Linked DNA regions of Homo sapiens. The protein of the gene in region 3 purifies or fractionates together with the protein of the main gene of each other region. This does not show direct contact. Each region holds a gene or a part of one and is shown on either strand. Other genes may lie near its edges. The genes, in order: CELA3A, SLC7A8, DCBLD2, TSPAN15 and C1QTNF9.

The links.
Region 1: the proteins of DCBLD2 (region 3) and CELA3A purify together in Homo sapiens (co-immunoprecipitation; one large-scale study listed by IntAct). This does not show direct contact.
Region 2: the proteins of DCBLD2 (region 3) and SLC7A8 fractionate together in Homo sapiens (co-fractionation; one large-scale study listed by BioGRID). This does not show direct contact.
Region 4: the proteins of DCBLD2 (region 3) and TSPAN15 purify together in Homo sapiens (co-immunoprecipitation; one large-scale study listed by IntAct). This does not show direct contact.
Region 5: the proteins of DCBLD2 (region 3) and C1QTNF9 purify together in Homo sapiens (co-immunoprecipitation; one large-scale study listed by IntAct). This does not show direct contact.

Annotation. Positions count from the first base shown.
Region 1 is NC_000001.11:22,007,652-22,012,044, reverse strand, and holds part of CELA3A (chymotrypsin-like elastase family member 3A preproprotein), read right to left. Parts: intron 2,341-4,393; coding exon 2,188-2,340; intron 1-2,187. UniProt on the Homo sapiens protein: Efficient protease with alanine specificity but only little elastolytic activity.
Region 2 is NC_000014.9:23,141,892-23,146,284, forward strand, and holds part of SLC7A8 (large neutral amino acids transporter small subunit 2), read right to left. Parts: intron 1,314-4,393; coding exon 1,188-1,313; intron 1-1,187. UniProt on the Homo sapiens protein: Associates with SLC3A2 to form a functional heterodimeric complex that translocates small and large neutral amino acids with broad specificity and a stoichiometry of 1:1.
Region 3 is NC_000003.12:98,814,475-98,818,867, forward strand, and holds part of DCBLD2 (discoidin, CUB and LCCL domain-containing protein 2 precursor), read right to left. Parts: intron 3,420-4,393; coding exon 3,295-3,419; intron 1-3,294.
Region 4 is NC_000010.11:69,505,515-69,508,758, reverse strand, and holds the end of TSPAN15 (tetraspanin-15), read right to left. Parts: intron 2,636-3,244; coding exon 2,519-2,635; intron 1,931-2,518; coding exon 1,781-1,930; 3' UTR 1,093-1,780; downstream 1-1,092. UniProt on the Homo sapiens protein: Part of TspanC8 subgroup, composed of 6 members that interact with the transmembrane metalloprotease ADAM10.
Region 5 is NC_000013.11:24,312,297-24,316,689, reverse strand, and holds part of C1QTNF9 (complement C1q and tumor necrosis factor-related protein 9A precursor), read right to left. Parts: intron 1,797-4,393; exon of another isoform or gene 1,713-1,796; intron 709-1,712; 5' UTR 687-708; coding exon 521-686; intron 1-520. UniProt on the Homo sapiens protein: Probable adipokine. Activates AMPK, AKT, and p44/42 MAPK signaling pathways.

The DNA.
Region 1 (4,393 bases), on a different chromosome or scaffold from region 3:
GACAGAGTCTCACTCTGTTGCCCAGGCTGGAGTGCACGATCTCAACTCACTGCAACCTCCACTTCTTGGGTTCATGCCATTCTCCTTCCTCAGCCTCCCAAGTAGCTGGGACTACAGGCGTACGCCACCATGCCTGGCTAATTTTTGTATTTTTAGTACAGATGGGATTTCACCGTGTTAGCCAGGATGGTCTCAATCTCCTGACCTCGTGATCTGCCCACCTCGGCCTCCCAAAGTGGTGGGATTACGGGTGTGAGCCACCACGCCCGGCCTTTTTTTTTTTTTAAGACAGAGTCTTGCTCTGTCACCGAGGCTGGAGGGCAGTGGCACAATCTCAGCTTACTGCAACCTCTGCCTCCTGAGTTCGAGCAATTCTTCTGCCTCAACCTCCCAAGTAGCTGAGATTACAGCGACGCACTACCACGCCTGGCCAATTTTTTTATATTTTTGTAGAGACAGGGTTTCACCATATTGGCCAGGCTGGTCTCGAACTCCTGACCTTGTGATCCACCTGCCTTGGCCTACCAAAGTGCTTGGATTACAGGCATGAGCCACCGTGCCTGGCCTTATATATATATTTTTTTAACATGGGTCAGGGAACCAAGGGATTAAATGGTCTATAAATCATCACTGTTTTTTTGTTTGTTTGTTTGTTTTTGTTTTTGAGATGGAGTCTTGCTCTGTCACCCAGGCTGGAGTGCAGTGGCGTAATCTCGGCTCACTGCAACCTCCGCCTCCCAGATTCAAGCAGTTCTCCTGCCTCAGCCTCCTGAGTAGCTGGGACCACAGGCATGCACCAATACGCCCGGCTAATTTTTTGTATTCTTAGTAGAGATGGGGTTTCACCATGTCGGCCAGGCTGGTCTTGAACTCCTGACCTCAGGTGATCCATGGGCCTTGGCCTCCCAGAGTGCTGGGATTACAGGCATGAACCACTGCACTCGACCAGAAATGTTTTTTTATTGGAAGGCTTCATGACTTTGCATGTCATCCTTGCGCAGGGGCCGTGCTAATCTCTATATCATTCCAATTTTAGTACATGTGCTGCCAAAGCAAGCACTACTGTTTTATTTTATTTAGTTTATTTTCATTTTTTTAAGAGAGAGGCTCTTGCTGTGTTGCCCAGGCTGGAGTACAGTGGCTATTCACAGGTGTGATCCTACTACTTTTCAGCATGTGAGTTTTGACCTGCTCTGTTTCTGACCTGGGACAGTTCACCCCTCCTTAGGCCACCTGGTGGTCCCCACTCCCAGGAGGTCACCACATTGATGCCAAACTTGGTGCAGAACCTGATGGGTATAGCGCACTATGGCCCAGAACTCCAGGGCTCAACCGATCCTCCTGCCTCAGCCTCCCAAGTAGCTGGGACTACAGGTGGGCATCACTGCACCCAGCTAGCTATTACTCTTTTTTTTTTTTTTTTTTTTTTGAGACGGAGTCTCGCTCTGTCACCCAGGCTGCAGTGCAGTGGTATGATCTCGACTAACTGCAACCTCCACCTCCCAGGTTCAAGCAATTCTCTGCCTGAGCCTCCCAAGCAGCTGGGATTACAGGCACCCACCACCATGCCCGGCTAATTTTTGTATTTTTAGTAGAGACAGGGTTTCACCATCTTGGCCAGGCTGGTCTTGAACTCCTAACCTCGTGATCCACCTGCCTCTGCTTCCCAAAGTGCTGGGATTACAGGCATGACTATGCCATGCCCAGCTATTACTCTCTTTTTTTTTGTTGTTTAGCTATTACTGTTACCATGAGCGTTATTAGTCCTCTCTGATCACCCATCCCCAGATGAAGTCTGGGGCCTGGACTCCCCTCTCTCGGCTCTCATCAGACTGCATCGTTCTCATTCATGTAATCACCTGTCCCCCACCAGGCAGCCTCTTGTCTGGCATGTCTCTCTATCCTCCCTGACAAGAGAGGACAAGACCAGAGGAGATACTTTATAAATACTTGTTGAAATAAGGAAGTTCAGCTGTAGTTCCAAGCACCACCCAGAAGCCATCAAGTTCCTGGGGTCACACTGTATCAGAAAACATCCCCAAGCCTTTCTGGAATGTCCCCAAGGGCCCTTCCCCACTGAGCTTCTAGGATCCTTTCAGGCCCTCCCCAGGATCCGATGTTTCTCACCTGTCACCTCTCAGAAGAGCCACCACCCTAAAGCCCTCCGGGCCGCCCTGCCCTCCTCACCTCCTCAATCCAGTCGATGAAGGCGGAGACTCGAGTGAACACCGTGGGCTTCCAGATGAAGTTGCAGCCAAAGGCAGAAACAAAGCTGGTCACACCGTGGACCTGCCAGCCACCATCCTCTGTGGGGCAGTTGAGGGGTCCTCCAGAGTCACCCTGGAACCGTCAGAGAGGAGTGGGTGGCTGAGCCATGTCTGAGGTTTACGGAACTGGTTCTGAATTCTAGGGATTTCAAGAAACTCTGACATTACTTGACACCTCTGAGCCTTAGCTCGCTCATTTTTTTATCATTTATTATTTTTATTTTTTTAGATGGAGTCTCGCTCTGCTGTCCAGGCTGGAGTGCAGTGGCGCAAGCTTGGCTCATTGCAACCTCCGTCTCCCGGCTCCCAGGTTCAAGTGATTCTCCTGCTTCAGCCTCCCAAGTAGCTGGGATTACAGGCACCTGCCACCACACCCGGCTAATTTTTGTTTATTTATTTATTTATTTTTTATTAGAGACGAAGTCTCACTCTGACGCCCAGGCTGGAGTACAGTGGCAGGATCTCAGCTCACTGCAAGCTCTGCCTCCAGGGTTCACGCCATTCTCCTGCCTCAGCCTCCCAAGTAGCTGGGACTATAGGTGCCCACTACCACGCCCGGCTAATTTTTGTATTTTTCGTAGAGACGGGGTTTCACCGTGTTAGCCAGGATGGTCTCGATCTCCTGACCACGTGATCCGCCCGCCTCAGCCTCCCGAAGTGCTGGGATTACAGGCGTGAGTCACTGCACCCAGCCATATTTAATAGAGATGGGATTTCACCATGTTGGCCAGGTTAGTCTCAAAGTCCTGACCTCAGGTGATCCACCTGCCGGGGCCTCCCAAAGGGATTATAGGTGTGAGCCACCACGCCCAGCCAGCTGACTCATTTGTGATAGGGAATAGTAGTATCTGTCCAAGAGCCTAGGGAATTACATGAGATGATGCACGATCTTAGCACGATATCCAGTAGAGAAGAAGCACTCGATAAACATAGTTCTTATTAGTGGCACCATAGTTAATTATTAATTCATACTCAATTACAATACAATGAGGGTATTTGATAGTATTTTTTTTTTTTCTGAGTCAGCGTCTCGCTCTGTCACCCAGGTTGGAGTGCAGTGGCGCGATCTCGGCTCACGGCAAGCTCCAACTCCTGGGTTCACACCATTCTCCTGCCTCAGCCTCCCGAGTAGCTGGGACTACAGGCGCCCACCACCACACCCGGCTAACTTTTTGTGTGTTTAGTAGAGACGAGGTTTCACCATGTTAGCCAGGATGATCTCGATCTCCTGACCTCGTGATCCGCCCGGCTCGGCCTCCCAAAGTGCTGGGATTACAGGCGTGAGCCACCGCGCCCAGCCTTTGTTTTTTTTTCTTAGACAAGGTCTTGGCCAGGAAAGTGGCTCACATCTGTAAACATAACACTTTGGAAGGCCAAGGCAGGAGGATTACTTGAGCCCAAGAGTTAGAGACCAGCCTGGGCAACATGGTGAGACCTCATCTCTACAAAAAATTTAAAAATTAGCTAGGCATTGTGGCACACACTTGTACTCCTGGCTGCTTGGGAGGCTGACATTGGAGGGTTGCTTGAGCCCAGGAGGGCAAGGCTACAGTGGGCTATGATGGCATTACTGCACTCCAGCCTGGGCAACAGAGCAAGATCCTGTCTCAAAAAAAAAAAAAAAAGAGACAACGTCTTGCTGTGTCGCCAGGCTTGGGTGCAGTGGCAAAAATCATAGCCACTGTGAGCTTGAACTCCCAGGCTCAAACAATCCTCCCACCTCAGCCTATCAAGTAGTTGGGACTACAGGCGAGTGCCACCATGCCTGACTAAGTAAAAAAAGTTTTTCTGTAGATGGGCATCTCACTATATTACCTAGGCTGGTCTCAAACTCCTAGCCTCAAGCAATCCTCCCACCTCAGCCTCCCAAAGCACTTGGATTATAGGCAGGAGGGACTGTGCCCAGAACAATGATGGTATTCTTAATGGTTAATTATAACTTTAGAACCACAGAATTGACCTGCGTTAGAGGTCATGGGACCAGTATCTCCTGCTGTGCTGATGCGGAAGCCTGAGGACCAGGGAGACACAGTGACTTGTCCCAAGTCATGTCAGTGTGTGAGCTGAGACTGCAACCCGGGGGTCCTGACTCCCAGGCCTGGGCTCTGTGTCTGGACTGCGCTGAT
Region 2 (4,393 bases), on a different chromosome or scaffold from region 3:
GAGATAGAGAGTAACTGATCATATGTTACTTATTCATCTGCAGTTTAGCATTGGGACAGGAAATAAGGAGATTAGTGTGACCAGGAGAAAGAATTGAGGCCAGCTTAGGAGGGACTCACTATTTTTGACAAGATAGCGCAGTGATTTCCTTAAGTCTAAATGCCTGAAAGCAATATATAACCTGTTAAAGAACTTAATCCAACTGTTTAAAATAATCAGGCATATTATATAGCAGAAACTTAATTATGTTTCCTGGAGTAGAAGTCCGGGCTGCCCACACTGCCTTCAGGGCTTGTGGGAAATTTCCCTGTTTGTCACCTGACTTTCTCCGTGAGGCAGTGACGCTGGGCAGAGCCTCATGGTGCCATGGGTCCCATGGAAACCAAATATAGCCTCAGGCTTGGAAAGGGCCAAATCCAGTGGGGAATGTTGGCAGGGGCCCCGGGAATGCAGAGCTCTCTCTCTCAGAGATTATAAGTAATTTTGAAACATAAAATACCTTTCTCTGTCCTCCACTTTAAGATGTGGACAAGATTCAACAGAAGATGCAGGGAGCTTCCCTGGGGTTGGGGCAAAAAGACAATAGGAATCTAGAGATCTGGGGTTTTTGTTTGTTTATTTGTTTTTGAGACAAGGTCTTGCTCAGTCGCCCAGGCTGGAGTGCAGTGGCACAATCATAGCTCACTACAGCCTCAAACTCCTGGGCTCAGGTGATCCTCCCACCTTAGCCTCCAGAGTAAGTGAGACCACAGCCATGCACCACCATGCCCCATTAATTTTTAAATTTTTTTGTAGAGATGGGATCTCGCTGTGCTGTTCAGGCTAGTCTCAAACTCCTGGGCTCAAGTGATCCTCCTGCCTCATCCTTCCTAAGTGCTGGGATTACAGGTGTGAGCCACCACACTCGGCCGATATGTGGGGTCTTTACCTAGCTGTGCTACAGCCTTGAGGTAAGCATGGGAGAGGTGACCTTTGCAGCCTAAAGGGAGCATTCCCTACTCCCAGCCACCTCGGGGAAAATGGTTTCTCCTTCCCTTTTGTCAAGCAAGGGAAGAAGAAGAGAAGTCACTCAAGGCTAGAATTGGGGAAATCTCAGGGTGTGGCATACTTCCAAAGCTGGGCTGAGAGGGTGTGTACATGCAAGGGGAGGAAAGCTGGGCAGTACCTGTTTTTCCTGCGATACTCACCTTTGCATATCTGTACAATCCCCATGATGATAATCAGGGCCAAGGCCAGGAGCTTCCCAGCTGTGAAGATGTCTTGAACCCGGGTGGCCCACCGCACACTGGAACAGTTGACCCATGTGAGGAGCACTGAAATGAAAGACCCCCAAACAGACCTTCAGGGGCTGTATCTGGCTGCATGATGCCCAAGGCACACAAGCAGAACTGCTCCCTCATCCTGACGATGACATTGTAGTAGGTGAGCCAGACATCCAGCAAGCTCAACCCCAGGGACCAGAGACTTTGGCTAGGTTAATGGGTTGCAAATGGGGATTATATGTCCCAAATTAGAGCTTGGGCCCAGCATGCCCTGCTGAGGGCTGGAAGCCAGAAGTAGGCATGGAAGTGTAGGCACTGGCTTTGGGGGTAAAATCACATCTGATCAGGGCACAAGTATGGGCTTTGTCTTCAAGTTATTATTTGTGCAAGAGAAGCTGTGAGCAGCTGGTGGGAGTCAGGAAGCCACCTTCCTGAGCCTGATTTTGGGGTAACAGAGGCTTAGGGGAATCTTATGTTACTTAGGTTTATTGAGATATAATCTACATCTTACTAAAACTCACCTTTTTAAAGTGTACAGTTTGATGAGATTTGACAAATGCATTTAATGGCTTAATCACTTCAGCACTTCATATATAGAACATTCCCAACACTCTAAAAAGTTTCCTTTTGCATCATGCTCCTTTGTAGTCAGTTAGGCAAATCTTCTTCCCCTACCTCTACAACCATTACTTTGACTTCTGTCCCTATAGCTTTGTCTTTTTCAAAATGTCACATAAATGGAATCATATAATATGTGGTCTTCTGTGTTTGGCTTCTTTCACTTCACAGAATGCTTTCGAGATCTACTCATGTTGTTGCATATATTACAATTTGTTCCTTTCTATTGCCAAATAGCATTCTATGATATAAAGGTATCTGTTTGTTTTTCCATAGACATTTGGGTTGCTCACAGTGTGGGACTATTATGAATAGAGTTGTGATAAATACTTGTGTAGATGTCTTTTTTCTTTTTGTGGATTGTAGAGATCTTTGAGTGGGGTTTTCATTGCTCTTGAGTAAATCCCCAGGAATGAGATCCTGGGCCATAGAGTAAATGTGTTTAACTTTCTAAGAAACTGCCAAACTGTCTTCCACAGTGGCTGTCTCATTTTGCATTCCTACTCTCATGTCAGAGTTCCTGTTGCTCTGTATCTTTCCCAGCATTTGGTATTGTCAGTTTAAACACAATTTTTTTTTTTTTTTTTTTTTTGGCTAATAGGCATGTAGTTGTATTTCATTATGGTTTTGATTTGCATTTCCCTAATGGCTAATGATGTTGAGCAACTCTTCATGTGCTTATTTACCATCCATTTACAAATCTTCTTTGGTGGCATGGGGAGTTGTAATTCTCTACAAAAAATTTTAAAAATAAGCTGGGTGGTGTGGTCGCTCTGACTTCACTTGAATGGCTGATCAAGTTTTATCAGTACCGTATTCTTATATGGTACTTCTACTTTCCAAGTATTTCCCAACCTTATTTGATGCTGAGAACATTTGGTTAGGGTAGGATGGTCCTGACATTAACCGTCTGTAACCTTCCTTTGTGCGCCATCTCCACCTGGCAAACCCCTTCTCCTCTTTCAAGATCCAGCTTAAATGTCACCTGTTCTGTGAATCTCTATAATTCAGCATGTTATTTATTCCTAACAACATGCCTGCAAGGGAAGATATATCAGCTGTGTTTTGTAGACGAGGAACAAAGTTTGTTCCTTCTCTCTAGAACAATCCCAGACCACTTTGTTTATATCTAATGTTGGGATGTATTTCTTTTTTCTTTTTCTTTTTTTTTTTTTTTCTGAGACGGAGTCTCACTCTGTCGCTCAGGCTGGAGTGCAGTGGCGCGATCTCGGCTCACTGCAAGCTCTGCCTCCTGGGTTCACGCCATTCTCCTGCCTCAGCTGGGACTACAGGCGCCCGCCACCACACCCAGCTAATTTTTTGTATTTTTAGTAAAGACAGGGTTTCACCGTGTTAGCCAGAATGGTCTCGATCTCCTGATCTCATGATCCTCAGCCTCCCAAAGTGCTGGGATTACAGGCAGGAGCCACCGCCCGGCCGGGATGCATTTCTTTGTATTAAAATGACCTGCTTCTGGCCGGGCATGGTGGCTCACGCTTGTAATCCCAGCACTTTGGGAGGTCAAGGTGGGCAGATCATGAGGTCAGGAGTTCGAGACCAGTCTGGCTAACACAGTGAAACCCGTCTCTACCAAAAATACAAAAATTAGCTGGGCGTGGTGGTGGCGCGCCTGTAATCCCAGCTACTCAGGAGGCTGAGGCAGGAAAATCACTTGTACCCGGGAGGCGGAGGTTGCAGTGAGCCGAGATTGTGCCAGTGTTCTCCAGCGTGGGTGACAGAGCTAGACCACATCTCAAAAAAAAAAGAAAAAAAAATTTTTTTTTTTTTAAGACACCAAGGGCAAGTAAATGTTTTCATGTTTTTAAATCTCAGGACTTATCATTGGCGCCTGCAAATAGTAGATGCTCAGCAAGTATTTAATAAATGAATTTTAAAATATCACAATTCATTAGCCTTCCAATATCATCTCAGTCTACACATTCCACAGCGCACATCAACCTCTTCTGCTCCCCAGGAACCCCATCAAAAGGAGACACAATCCCTAGTTGGCTTCATGTTGCCAAAGGGCAACAGGGAACTTGACTTCAAGAGCAGAAGCTCCTGACTCCTCATGGAAGAGCTATTATCCAAGATGATGTCATGCAAGGAGAAGCAAAACATGTTGTCAGAGGAAGGATTTTAAGTGCCCGAGCAGGGAGAACACTTTGTAAATACTCAAATGTTCCAGACGGACTGACATCCTGATAAATACACATTTGGTTTGTCTTACTCAATTCAATAAGGATTTCAGGATCATGTGCCTGGTGACAAGCCAACCTAAGTCACTCTAAACAACTGGGTCTGTGATCTCAGCTTCTTCCCTAGGCCCCAAGGCATGCAAGGTACAAGGCTGCGCCCCTTCACCCAGGAATTCAGGCAGACACAGCAGTAACTCAAGGATAAAGGAGATTGATAAAAGGAAGGAAGGAAGATTAGGAAACAAACCCCATAAGCCTCAGGGATAGGTAAGGATTACACAACAAGGAACTGGATCTTGATCTCAGGGAAGAAAA
Region 3 (4,393 bases):
TGTGAGGTGTCATGAAGAGAAAATGGATATGGTTGCTACAGTTCCCACCCTCAAGAAACTTAAATTTTATTGATTACCACACATAAATATGGCATAATGTTAGAAAGTGATATATTATGAAAACAAATTGTATATATATATATAAATCCCATTTTCTAAAAACAAAACCAAATGCAGTCTCTGCGTACTCATGCACATGTGCAGGCTCAGAAAAGGGGTAAAATGAATACACCAATTACCCTTGGGTTGGAGGTGATGAGGGAGCAGATGGACTTACATGAGCGGGAAAAGACTGTTAATTCATACAATTCAATGTGAAGATTTGCATTTCTGACCATAAGAGTAACGGATTAGACTTATTGTTCAGCCCTATACGTACCTGAGAAACTGGATAACAGGCTGCCTTGGGCAATAATGACGGAAAGAAGGGAAACAAATAAGGTGAACCCTGCTATTTATTGCCCCAGTACTGTCTATAGAAGAGTTTCCAGGCCACAGTGCAGGGAGAGAGATCCCTAACAGAGCCTGCCGGTCTCACTGAGTTGCAGAGACAGAGCTGAGAGTGGGAGGCCAATAAGGTAGCTAGAATTTGTAGGCAGAGATTAGGAGAGAAGAGAGCTATAAAGATAGAGTGAGTGAGAGAGAGAGAGAGAGACACTTCTAGAATATATAAGGAGTTATCCCTTAAATCTTCAGCTGCATGTAAAGAAATGACCTATGGCCAGTAAAAGAAACACTGGAATGAGTCAGCAGGACAAGTCTCACAGCTCCGTAGATCTGGGAATTCCTTACACTGCCAAGAGGTAGAACAGAGAAACCTCATAATACATGGGATGCTGCAGTGAGTACTTAGAACAGTATTGTCTCAGTGGGGGAGAAAAATAAGAAAACTGAAGGCTGTCCAGGTCCTGCCTAATGAAGTTTAAAAGCAAGCCTTGAAAATATCACATTGTTTCCAGTAGCTTAACTACATTCCAGAATAAAGCTCAAAAATACTTAAGGGAATATTAATAACAAAAAACCCCAGCACCAAACAATGTAACACAATGTCTGGCATCCAATAAAAAAAATTCGGGCAGGTAAAATATGATCCATAATATCAATCAACATAAAAAGACCCATATATGACATAGGATAACATTAGCAGATGAGGATATTAAAAGAGCTATTATATATGCTCCATGTTCCAGAGATAGAGAAAAGCATGAGCATGTAAAGACACACTGGAGACATCTTAAAACTCCCAAACTGAACATCTAGAGATAAAAAATACAGTATCAGAGATAAAAATACATTGGATGGGATTAACAGATTAGACATTTCAGAAGAATAGATTAGTGAACTTGAAGACAAAACAGAAAACTTTCAAACTAAAATACAAAGAGAAAAAGACTGAAAAAAATAAAGAACGGAGCATTGGTGAATGGTAAGATACCTTCAAGGGTCATAATATTCATAAAATTAGAATTGGGGAAGGGAAATATTTGAAAAAAAAAGAACTACAATTTTCTAAATTTGATGCAAATCATAACCTACAGATCCAAAAACCTCAAAGAACCCCACGCAAAAAAAAAAGAAGAAAAATATAAAAAAGCCACATCAATCAAACTGCTTAAAACAAATGATAAAAAGAAAACCTTAAAAGGAGCCACAGAAAAAAAGACATATCACATATTGAGGAACAGAAATAATAGCAGAATTCTTGTCAAAAACAATGCAAGCCAGCAAACAGCAGACAACGTATTTCAATTATTGAAAGGAAAAACCAAAAAAAAAAAAAAACCAAAAAACCACTGATCAACCCAGATTTCTACACTTAGAGAAATTACCTTTCAAAAATGAATGCAACATAGAATCTTTTTCAGAAATATCATTTAATGTTTAGAAGTTTTTATAGTATAAGCCTGAACAATTCTTAACATTCCAAAAATTTAGCTATATTCCACAAGCAAAATAAATGTGATACAAATGAATATGGATGTGGCAGGAGTAAAGAGTAGTCAAGTTTAGGGGCATGAGGTAGAAGATATGTATGGAGACAGTATTGTTATTTTCTTTAACAGGGAGAGGCTCACCAAAGATGAAGTTCATGTGACGCCAAGTAGAAGAGAAGAAAGAGGCCTTGAATAAAAGCAGAGGAGTTAAGATGCATATGAAAGATAATGAGCCCCTGGAGGTTTTTGAACAAAGAGATGAGAAAAGTAGTAATTGAAGACTTTTTAGCAAATCATACATGATAAAAAACAAAAATATATAATCAAAATCAAACTCATAGGAAAGTTTGAAAAAATGTCATCATTGTTTCAGTTCTTTTTTTTCCACTTTGAGACAGAGTCTCCCTCTGTCGCCCAGGCTGGATTGCAGTGGAGTGATCACAGCTCACTGCAGCCTCAACCTCCTGGGTTCAGGTGATTCTCCCACCTCAGCCTCCCAAGAAACTGGGACTACAGGCATGCGCCACCATGCCTGGCTAATTTTCTGTATTTTTAGTGGAGATGGCGTGTTGCCATGTTGCCCAGGCTGGTTTCAAACTCCTGAGCTCAAGCAATCCCAAAGTGCTGTGATTACAGGAGTGAGCCATCATGCCCAGCCCCATAGTTTTGGTACTGATGGGAGACATCTATCTTCCTTAGGCACAAGGACTTCTCCATTTAAAGATCAAAGGGATACACATCTGAATAAGACCCATCTCTGCCTGCTCCCCACCCCTTATCATTTCCTCTGGCTCATTCCAGCATCTTCATAAATTGTTGCTAACTAAAACAAAGATTCCATAATTAGATGCTAGAGCAATTCTTCATGTAAGAAAAAACAGAAGTTTCCCAAGATGAAAGTTGGTGAGATGATCTTCAGATGAATTTTCATCTCTAATATCCTATAATTTAATGCACGTTGGTTTTCAGCTTTTTTCTTTTTTTACCTCTTGCCTACAGAGTAGAAATCTGGGAACAAAGGCTCTCCATCATCTGGTGAATTGAAAAAAGCTTCATAAAAATAAGAAATTACAAGGTCCCTTTTAGACTTTCTTAATAAAGTGTCTAAACAATTCAATTAAAAATGCAATGACAAAAATCAGAAAAGTACTCACCGTTACAATCACCAAAAGGAACCTAGAACTACTGAGAATTTTCTAAAGTCAGTAGAGTAAGGCCAATAACACTACCTAAAATAACCACAAGAGGGTAGTATAAGACATTCTAAACTTCTACATCTCTTTTATACAGGAGAGCTCTGTGACTTGGCAACCACCCATTTAAAAAATGTTTTTTAAAAATACCTTGGTAATCATTTTACCTTATCTTGCTCCACACCAGGCTCTCTGTACACAGTCCATTTCTGCCCATCATCACTGTACAGGATTCTGTAGGCAGACACATAGTAATTGTGCTCCACCATGGTGGATCCAGTGGTTATAATGCCTGGGGAATGAAGAGTTGCTTTCATTAATGCACATGGTCTGATTCCCTAAGTTTGTTCAGCATCAAAGTATAAACACTTGAAATGCACAGCTCGAACATTTCTAATTATGGCTCATTTCCATATCCAAGTGCACGTTTTTGTCATAACAATTACTAAATCCTTGGCCTTATTCCCTTGGAGAGAGAGGAAGGATTATGGGTGGGCATTAATTAAGTAAAGAACTATTCTGTTTTGGTGTCTTGTGTTTATAACGTCGTAAAATAGATTTTGACTACTGGGTAAGATGACTTCCTGGGAATGAACAGATTAAAGATGATTATTGGTATTATTTACAGTACCAAAACAAAATAAATATTTTAACAAAATTAAACCAATCCCAACCAATTATTCCGACCATTTGCTAAGTTCCCCTAAATTAAATTTATACTCTCCACATGTGGAAAATTAATGATCTCATCATTTAAAATGGACTCCTTTAACATAAATTTCTCTTAATGACTGTAGGAGACCGTTATTTTAGATGTCTCAAGACCACTTTACTGAAACACTACCTTAAAAAAAGAGTCTCATTACAATGGAAACAAAAAGCTATTACGAATTAAATACTGTGATGGTTAATACTGAGTGTCAACTTGATTGAAGGATGAAAAGTATTGTTCCCAGGTGTGTCTGTGAGGGTGTTGCTAGAGGAGATTAACATTTGAGTCAGTGGACTAGGACACGCAGACCCACCCTCAATCTGGGTCGGCACCATTTAATCTGCATCAGCACGGCCAGAATAAAAACAGGCAGAAGAAAATGTGAAAAGACTAAACTGGCTTAAGTCTCCCAGCCTACATCTTTCTCCCATGCTGGATGCTTCCTGCCCTTGAACATCAGACTCCAAGTTCTTAGCTTTGGGACTTCTGGACCTTTGACCATAGACTAAAAGCTGCACTGTTGGCTTCCCTACTTTTGAGGTTTTGGGACTCGG
Region 4 (3,244 bases), on a different chromosome or scaffold from region 3:
TAACTGCCCTGTGCCTCAGTTTCCCCACTAATAAAATGAAGATAAGAATTACCCTAGTCGTGAGGATTAAAGGAGTTAATATCGTTCCTGGCAAAGTATGCTCTATGGTGTGTTTGTTATTGTTGTGTTATTGCATACTTTAAAATACCCTCCTCCTGCCCCTTCTTACACATGCGTTTGGCACCCATGGCAGACCAAGCATCTGACCACTTAACTACTGGGTGTGTAGATGGTTCCCACCGTTAGAATCCTTCAGGTTTGGGGCTCTTGCTGCTTTATTTCTTCTTCTTTTTTTTTTTTTTTTTTTTTTTTTTTTTTGAGATGGAGTCTCACTCTGTTGCCCAGGCTGGAGTACAGTGGTGTGATCTCGGCTCACCACAACCTCCGCCTCCCGGGTTCAAGCGATTCTCCTGCCTCAGCCTCCTGAGTAGCTGGAACTACAGGCGCGCACCACCATGCCCGGCTAATTTTTGTATTTTTAGTAGAGATGGGGTTTCACTATGTTGGTCAGGCTGGTCTCGAACACCTGACCTCGTGATGGCCCACCTCAGCCTCCCAAAGTGTTGGGGTTACAGGCGTGAGCCACCATGCCCGGCCTCTTGCTACTTTATTTCTATTGCCCTGGCTACTAAGAGCCTCACAAAAAATCTAGATCCCATGTCTTCTGGCCCGAAGGTTTGAGTGGACTGACGCACGCAAGTCCCGGCATCTCCAGCAGGGGTCGACCGACACCACGCTCTGCATGCGTTGCGCGGCAGCCATTAGGCACACTGAGGGCTGCAGGGAGCGCGGTAGGTGGACCTGTGGGCAACTCCGCTTCCCTGGTCCCCCACCCCATCCACCCCATTTCCTGGAGGTGGAGCCTCATGCTGTACCTGGCCCAGGCTGTTTCCCTCGGTTCTCGGTAAAATAGGCGTGGTCACCTCTGGCCCTGAGGCTTTCCCCCCAACCCCCCACCTGTATCCCAAGCTATGCCAAATCTTCACCCCATGCACCCCCTTCATCCTCGCATCCACAAGGGGTTTCCAAATCCAGGTTGCAGCCTTCCTTACCCCCGCCCCAACAAAACAGCACACAGGAAAGGCAAAAAAAAAAAAAAAAAAAAAACATGTTTTTATTGTTTGATTAACAAACTGGTTGGGGGAAGGGCAAGAATAAGACATGCGGGGAAATACCAGCTTTGATTAGTCAGAAACTCCTGTTATCTGTACAAAAAAATGAATGTTACAAAAATCACGTAAAAAAACTAGGCTCAAGGAAGCAGCCGCCCTTGCAAGAGGGCTCAAGGCACCTGGGAGGCTGAGAAGAGGCCAACCTGGCCATGGGCGTGGCTGCATGGACAGCTCTTCCCTCCTGCCCTTCCCCAGATGCCCTTCCCTCCTGCCCCGAGGGGCACACTCCCTCTCCCCAATTACAGGTGCTACAAAACTGCCTTGAATACCACCGCCAAGGCACTGCCAGAGATGAAATGGGCCCTGAGCAGAGCCTCAGGCTCTCCCTCCCCCGTAGCCCAGGCCTGGAGAAAGGAGGGCCTTGTTCCCCAGGCCCCAGGTGGGCACAGATTCCAGAGCTGCCTCGGGGAAAGCCTCTTAGGGGAGGCCCAGGCTCTGCTCCCTGGGGAGGCAGAGGCCGTGGGACCTACACACAGGCACACACAGCCCTGGCTTTGGTCAGTACTGAGTGTGGGCAGAGGGGCCGCAGCCCTGTCCAGCCCCACGATGTTGACTGAGAGGTGCTATCCCAGACGGTCCTTGTTGGAGCTGCCATGGCAGGCTGGGCCCTAATTGGGGTAGCACAAGCAGCATCCCGTGCCTGCCGCCTCCACGCTGGGCTTGGCACCGGGCCCCAGGAGCCCATCAGTGACAGAGTGCTCCATGATGATGTCCTCCACCCGGGTGATGTACAGCAGCGTCAGCAGCACCCCCAGGAACTGAGAAGAAGGGGCAGGGCTGGTGAGGGCCTGCTGGGAATCAGGGCAGCCCTCCCTGCAGCTCCCGGCTCCCAGAAACCCAAGCAGCCAGTCCCAAGCCCTCATGGTCCTGTGTGACCTGGGCAACACCCACAGCAGAGACTTCTCCCAGCACCCACACTGCCCAAGAAGCTCCCACCTGGGCCCCCTCTCCCCTTCCCAGGAAATCCCAGAGCGCCTCGCTGTGCCCCATCAGCAAGGGCCCCTCCCTTCTGGGATTCCTGCCTCCACCCCAGCTCTGCTGCACACTATCTAGGGGATCTTGGCAAGTCACTGAAGCTTGCTGCTCCTCAGTTTCCTCCTCTGTGAAATAGGCATTATAATAGTGCCTCCCTCACAAAAAGAAGTGAAGCAGCAGTGCCTGCGCAGCACTTGGAAGAGCTTCGCCACGACTGCTATTGCCATTTGCCCCTCCTTCCAGCCATGCAGCCCTCCCCAGGCAAGTCCTGGACTTCTATGAAAAAAGCCTCTTCGCTCTTCCCCTCTGCACCTTCTCTGCCCTTCTGCAATCACCAAGTCACACTTTCTCTGAACCCACGGCCTGCCCACCTGGGGAAGCAGGATGCCCAGGAGGATGCCCGCCATGATGGTGTAGTTGTCCATGAACCAGATGATCACGGCGTTGGTGCAGCCCCGCACGTAGATGACATCCTGCACACTGAAACGCTGCATGGGAAGGAGCTGGGTCAGCCCAGCAGAGGACCTCGGCTGGCAGGAGCCACAGCCCCGACTCTGCCATGTACACAAGGTCCAGGCTAGTCCCTCAACCGCTGTGATCCTCAGTTTCCCATATGCAGCATGAGAAGGTGACCCTAGATTCTGATTCTTAATGGACAGTACTGTTCTCTAGAGAGGACTGGGGACACCGTGGTGGCACTTTTGGTTGCCCCAGCAAACGAGGTTGGCGGCTGAGGGACTGCAGAGCTCAGGGTAATCCTACTCCACAAACAACTGCCCTGCCTGTGTGCTTCTCAGATGTCCCTGCATGAAAAGCCTCACGGATGTTTTCCATACATGAAAAGCCTATTTATAATTATCCAAGCCAATAGCCCCACTCCAGGTACATATAAAAAACAAAGCAGAGTTGGGCATGGTGGCCAGTGCCTGCAGTCCCAGCTACTATGGAGGCTCAGTTGGGAGGAGTGCCTAAGCCTAGGAGTTTGAGGCCAGCCTAGGCAACAGTGAGACCCTGTCTGTCTCTTAAGGGAAAAAAAAAAAAAAAGCATTTCTGCATTGGTTTTAATATACAAAGAATTTTCCAGAAGTACTACTAGG
Region 5 (4,393 bases), on a different chromosome or scaffold from region 3:
CAGCTGTATGGTTTCAGATTCTCGTCTCCTTTTGTGTCATCTGTCACTCCGCATCTCCTGCTTCATGGCATGATGCGGTATTAGCTCTCACCTGCACTGCAGCTGGGTGCTTGCTGCCAAATAATTCGTGATCAGATCTCTCTATTAGCCTTTTGTTGCCAAAAATCCATCATACCTGTCACCTGAGATGGGAGGATCCATGACATCGTATACTACTGAAAATGTTCTGCGGTGTCAGAGATGAGAGAACCCAGGAGGGCAGGGGTCATGGCGATCTTGCCCTGTGCTCTCCACCAGCACCTGGCACAGAGTCTGGCATGGAGCAGACCCCGTGAGTGTTGCTGGGCAGATGGGTGGATGGATGAATGGGGTCAGGCTCCAGTGAGTGTTGCTGGGTTGATGTATGTATGGATGGATGGGGTGTGAGTGGGTAGGTGGAAAATCACACAGATGATGAGTGAATGAGATGAAAGGAATGAAGAGAGAAGTTGAAAGGCAGCCGAAGCCGTCAGGTGAGTACCTGCATCGCCTTTGTCACCCTTCGCTCCGTCTCGTCCATCTCTTCCAGGCAGACCATTGTGACCGGGGTTCCCAGGGATTCCAGGGTGCCCTTGCCTGCAGGTGTCCTGTGAGTTTATGTTCCCTGTGCAGATTTCAATGGCAAGCAGAAGCCACCAGATCCTCATGGTTCAGATGACAGACTCTGAACTGAAAGAGGGAAACAGAAACCCAAAGGAGAAATCTTTGTTGCTGGGGCCCTGGACACAGCCTCTGTTCCGTGCAGTGGGAAATGGATGAGCTGTCCCCTGCCCCAGACCCACACCTGCACAAACTTGGACAGAAGGCTCAGGGCAGGGGAGCAAGCTGATTATAACCAGAATGACACTGTCCTTGGAAGGTAACACTTGTGATTGGAACCACTCTTCAAGGTGAACGGGCAATTTAAAAAGCCAAGTTTAAGGTCAGGATACTCTTCCGTTCATCATTTCACTTTGAAGAAATCACTTTTCTGAACCAGAGATCAATGCTTACTTATCTCACAGGACTGTCGTACAGATCAAATTTTATCACGATATGCATAAAGGCACATTCCAAGTAGTGAAGCAAACATAGCATTACCATCTGATCCAGCAATTCCACTGCTGTGCATCTACACAAAATAATTGAAAGCAAGGACTGGAACAGATGTCCATGTTCGTAGTTGCATTATTTTCCATAGCAACCCAAGGGTCCCTCAGTGGATAAATAGATACATGCAATGTGGTAGGTCCATACAATGGAATATTCTTCAGCCTTAGAAAGAGAAGAAATTCTGACACATGTTACAACATGAATGGACCTCGAGAACATTATGCGAAGTGAAACCAGCTAGTCACAAAAAGACAGACCTGGATAATTTCACCTATAAGAGGTTCCTAGAGCCGTCAAACTCATATAAAGAAAAAGTAGGATGGAGGTTGCCAGAGGTGAAGAGAGAAGGAAATGGGAGTTGTTTGATGGGTACAGAGTTTCTGTTTGGGAAGATTTTAAAAGAGTTCTGGAGATGGGTGGTGGTGATGGTTGCACAACAAAGAGAACGTACATAATGCCACTGAATTGTGCCCTTAAGATGGTTAAGCTGGTTAGTTTTACGTTTTATGTTATATATTTTTTACCACATTAAACAATTAAATTAAATTTTTAAAAAAGTAAAGCATTCCAAGAAGTCTTACTGTAGTGAGAGGTGTTCTTTGAGTCAGGGTCTTGTTTTTCTAGGAGGCCACTGTGAAGAAGGGCCACACACACGGAAACATCACCTAGTTCGGGAGAAATGCATTTTCAAGTCCTTTCCTTATATATAATTTTTGGAGACAAGGTCTTGCTCCATCACGCAGGCTGAAGTACAGTCATGCAATCACAGCTCACTGTAGTCTCAACCTCCCAGCTCAAGCGATTCTCTTGCTTCAACCTCCCAAGTAGCTGGGACTACAGGCATGCACCACCACACCTGGGTTTGGTTTTGTTTTGTTTTGTTTTCGAGATGCAGTTTCGCCCTTGTGGCCCAAGCTGGAGTGCAATGGCCGATCTCTGCTCACTGCTGCCTCTGCCTCCCAGGTTCAAGCAATTCGGCTTCTCAAGTAGCTGGGACTACAGGCGCCACCACCACGCCTAGCTAATTTTTGTATTTTTAGTAGAGACGGGGTTTCACCATGCTGGCCAGGCTGGTCTCAAACTCTTGACCTCAGGTGATCTGCCTGTCTTGGCCTCCCAAAGTGCTGGGATTACAGGCATGAGCCATTGCCTATTTTTCTTTCTTTCTTTTTTTTTTTTTCTTTGGAGAGACTGGGTCTCACTCTGTTGCCCAGGCTGGTCTTGAAATCCTGAGCTCAAGTAATCCTCCCGCCAGTCTCCCAAAGTGCTAGTATTACAGGCTAAAGACCCTGTACCTGACTTTTAGGATTTAAAAAAATGAAGTAAAACAAAAACGTGGGCATAGTGCAACTGGTCAGAACCCAGATCCTCTCACAGTGCTGATAGCCATGTAAATCTGCACATCTTTCTGGAAAAGTTAAAGAGCAAAAGACATCTATGTCTTTCACCCTGTATTGCTATCCCTAAAATTCTTCCTAATGTTCCAAAACTGTGTGCCAATTGTGTGCCATTACCTGCAGCATTATCTATAACAGGTGAAAACGTGCATACTACATACTATGTAACAATAGGGGAAAGGTTTACTATGTGTAATAGTATGTAACTGCTGCAATAATTATGAAGGTCATGTAGAAATATGTAAATGATATACATTGTGCTGAATTTTGATAGTAGACTAAAATGCCATGCACATTATAAATGTACTTACGACTGTATGAATATTGACAAAAACTCAAAGTGAATATATGCAAATAAAGATGGTTGCTTTAGAATGGGGGGCAGTTATGGGAGCTTTTCATTTATAAAAAATGCTTTTTTATAGTGCCTACACAAATATTTCTAGAGATTTTGAAAACCAGCAAGACTCTCTGTCATCCAAAGACTGTATTGCCATCTGGTGGAAATGTCACAGGGAGCAGTCTAATGCAAATGGAGTATTTTTGGGAAAGGAAATGCAGATGCTTCCCTTCGAAGTCACAAATTCGCTCCATTCCAGGAAATTGAGTTGAGTTTTCTTGGAGCCAAATTCCATGAAGAATATACACGAGCCTCCTTTGCTAAACTCAGAAGTGGCCGGAAGCAGTCAAATCGAAATTCCATCAACCAAACTTTGTTGAGGGTTCTATAATTTTCATTTTAACTTTTCAAAATGTGGAGTACAACTATTCCAGGAATAAAATGATCAGAAGATCATAAAGGTGTCAGGTTAGGATAAACTCCAATTTGCTCTCCAGGGAAGAAGAAGCCAGCCTGGAAGCAAATGGTTACTCTTCTGTAATTATTTCACTAGTTTTGCATATTTGATGTAGGTAGAGTCTATCTAGCTTGTTTATACAGCATGTAGACAACCTTCAGCAAATGATTTTGATTAACTAATATGCGTTCTCCCAAATACGTAGCAAAGTAAGTTGTGCCACTATTTCTGTTTTATTTGTTTGTTTGTTTGTTTGTTTATAGAGATACAGTCTCATGAATGTTGCCCAGGCTGGACTCGAACTTCTAGGCTTAAGTGGTCCTCCTGCCTCAGCCTTCTGAATAGCTGGGATTAGAGACGTGGTCACCACCTAGGTTGGCACTATTTTTTTTTTCTTTTTTTTTTTTTTTGAGATAGAGTCTCGCTCTGTCGCCCAGGCTGGAGTGCAGTGGCGCGATCTTGGCTCACTGCAAGCTCTGCCTCCCGGGTTCGCACCATTCTCCTGCCTCAGCCTCCCGAGTAGCTGGGACTACAGGCACCCACTACCATGCCCGGGTAATTTTTTGTATTTTAGTAGAGACGGGGTTTCACCATGTTAGCCAGGATGGTCTCGATTTCCTGACCTTGTGATTCGCCCACCTCGGCCTCCCAAAGTGCTGGGATTACAGGTGTGAGTCACTGCACACGGCCGCTTGGCACTATTTTTTAATAAGAAATTTTAGCAAGTTTATACCTCCTATTTAGCCTCTTCTTTAATGTAGAAGGTTGAGGATTTGCACAAGGAATATAGAAGAAATTATATTAATGTTATTTTGAAAAATAAAAAATTACATTTGTGCCTCTCACAAAGCTATGGGTTGGACCCTCAGTTTCATTAGTTCAACTACAGTTACACTCTTGACTTTTAATTTCTGGGTCTGGTCTTTTCCCAGAAGGCACTAGAGCTAGGAGCCTCTTCTGTCTCCCATCTTTCCCTGCAATCATCCACTCTCTCTCTCATCTGAATTACTGTCCTCCCCAGTCCCCACTTACTCTGTACACCACACCTAGACTAATGATCACTTAGTA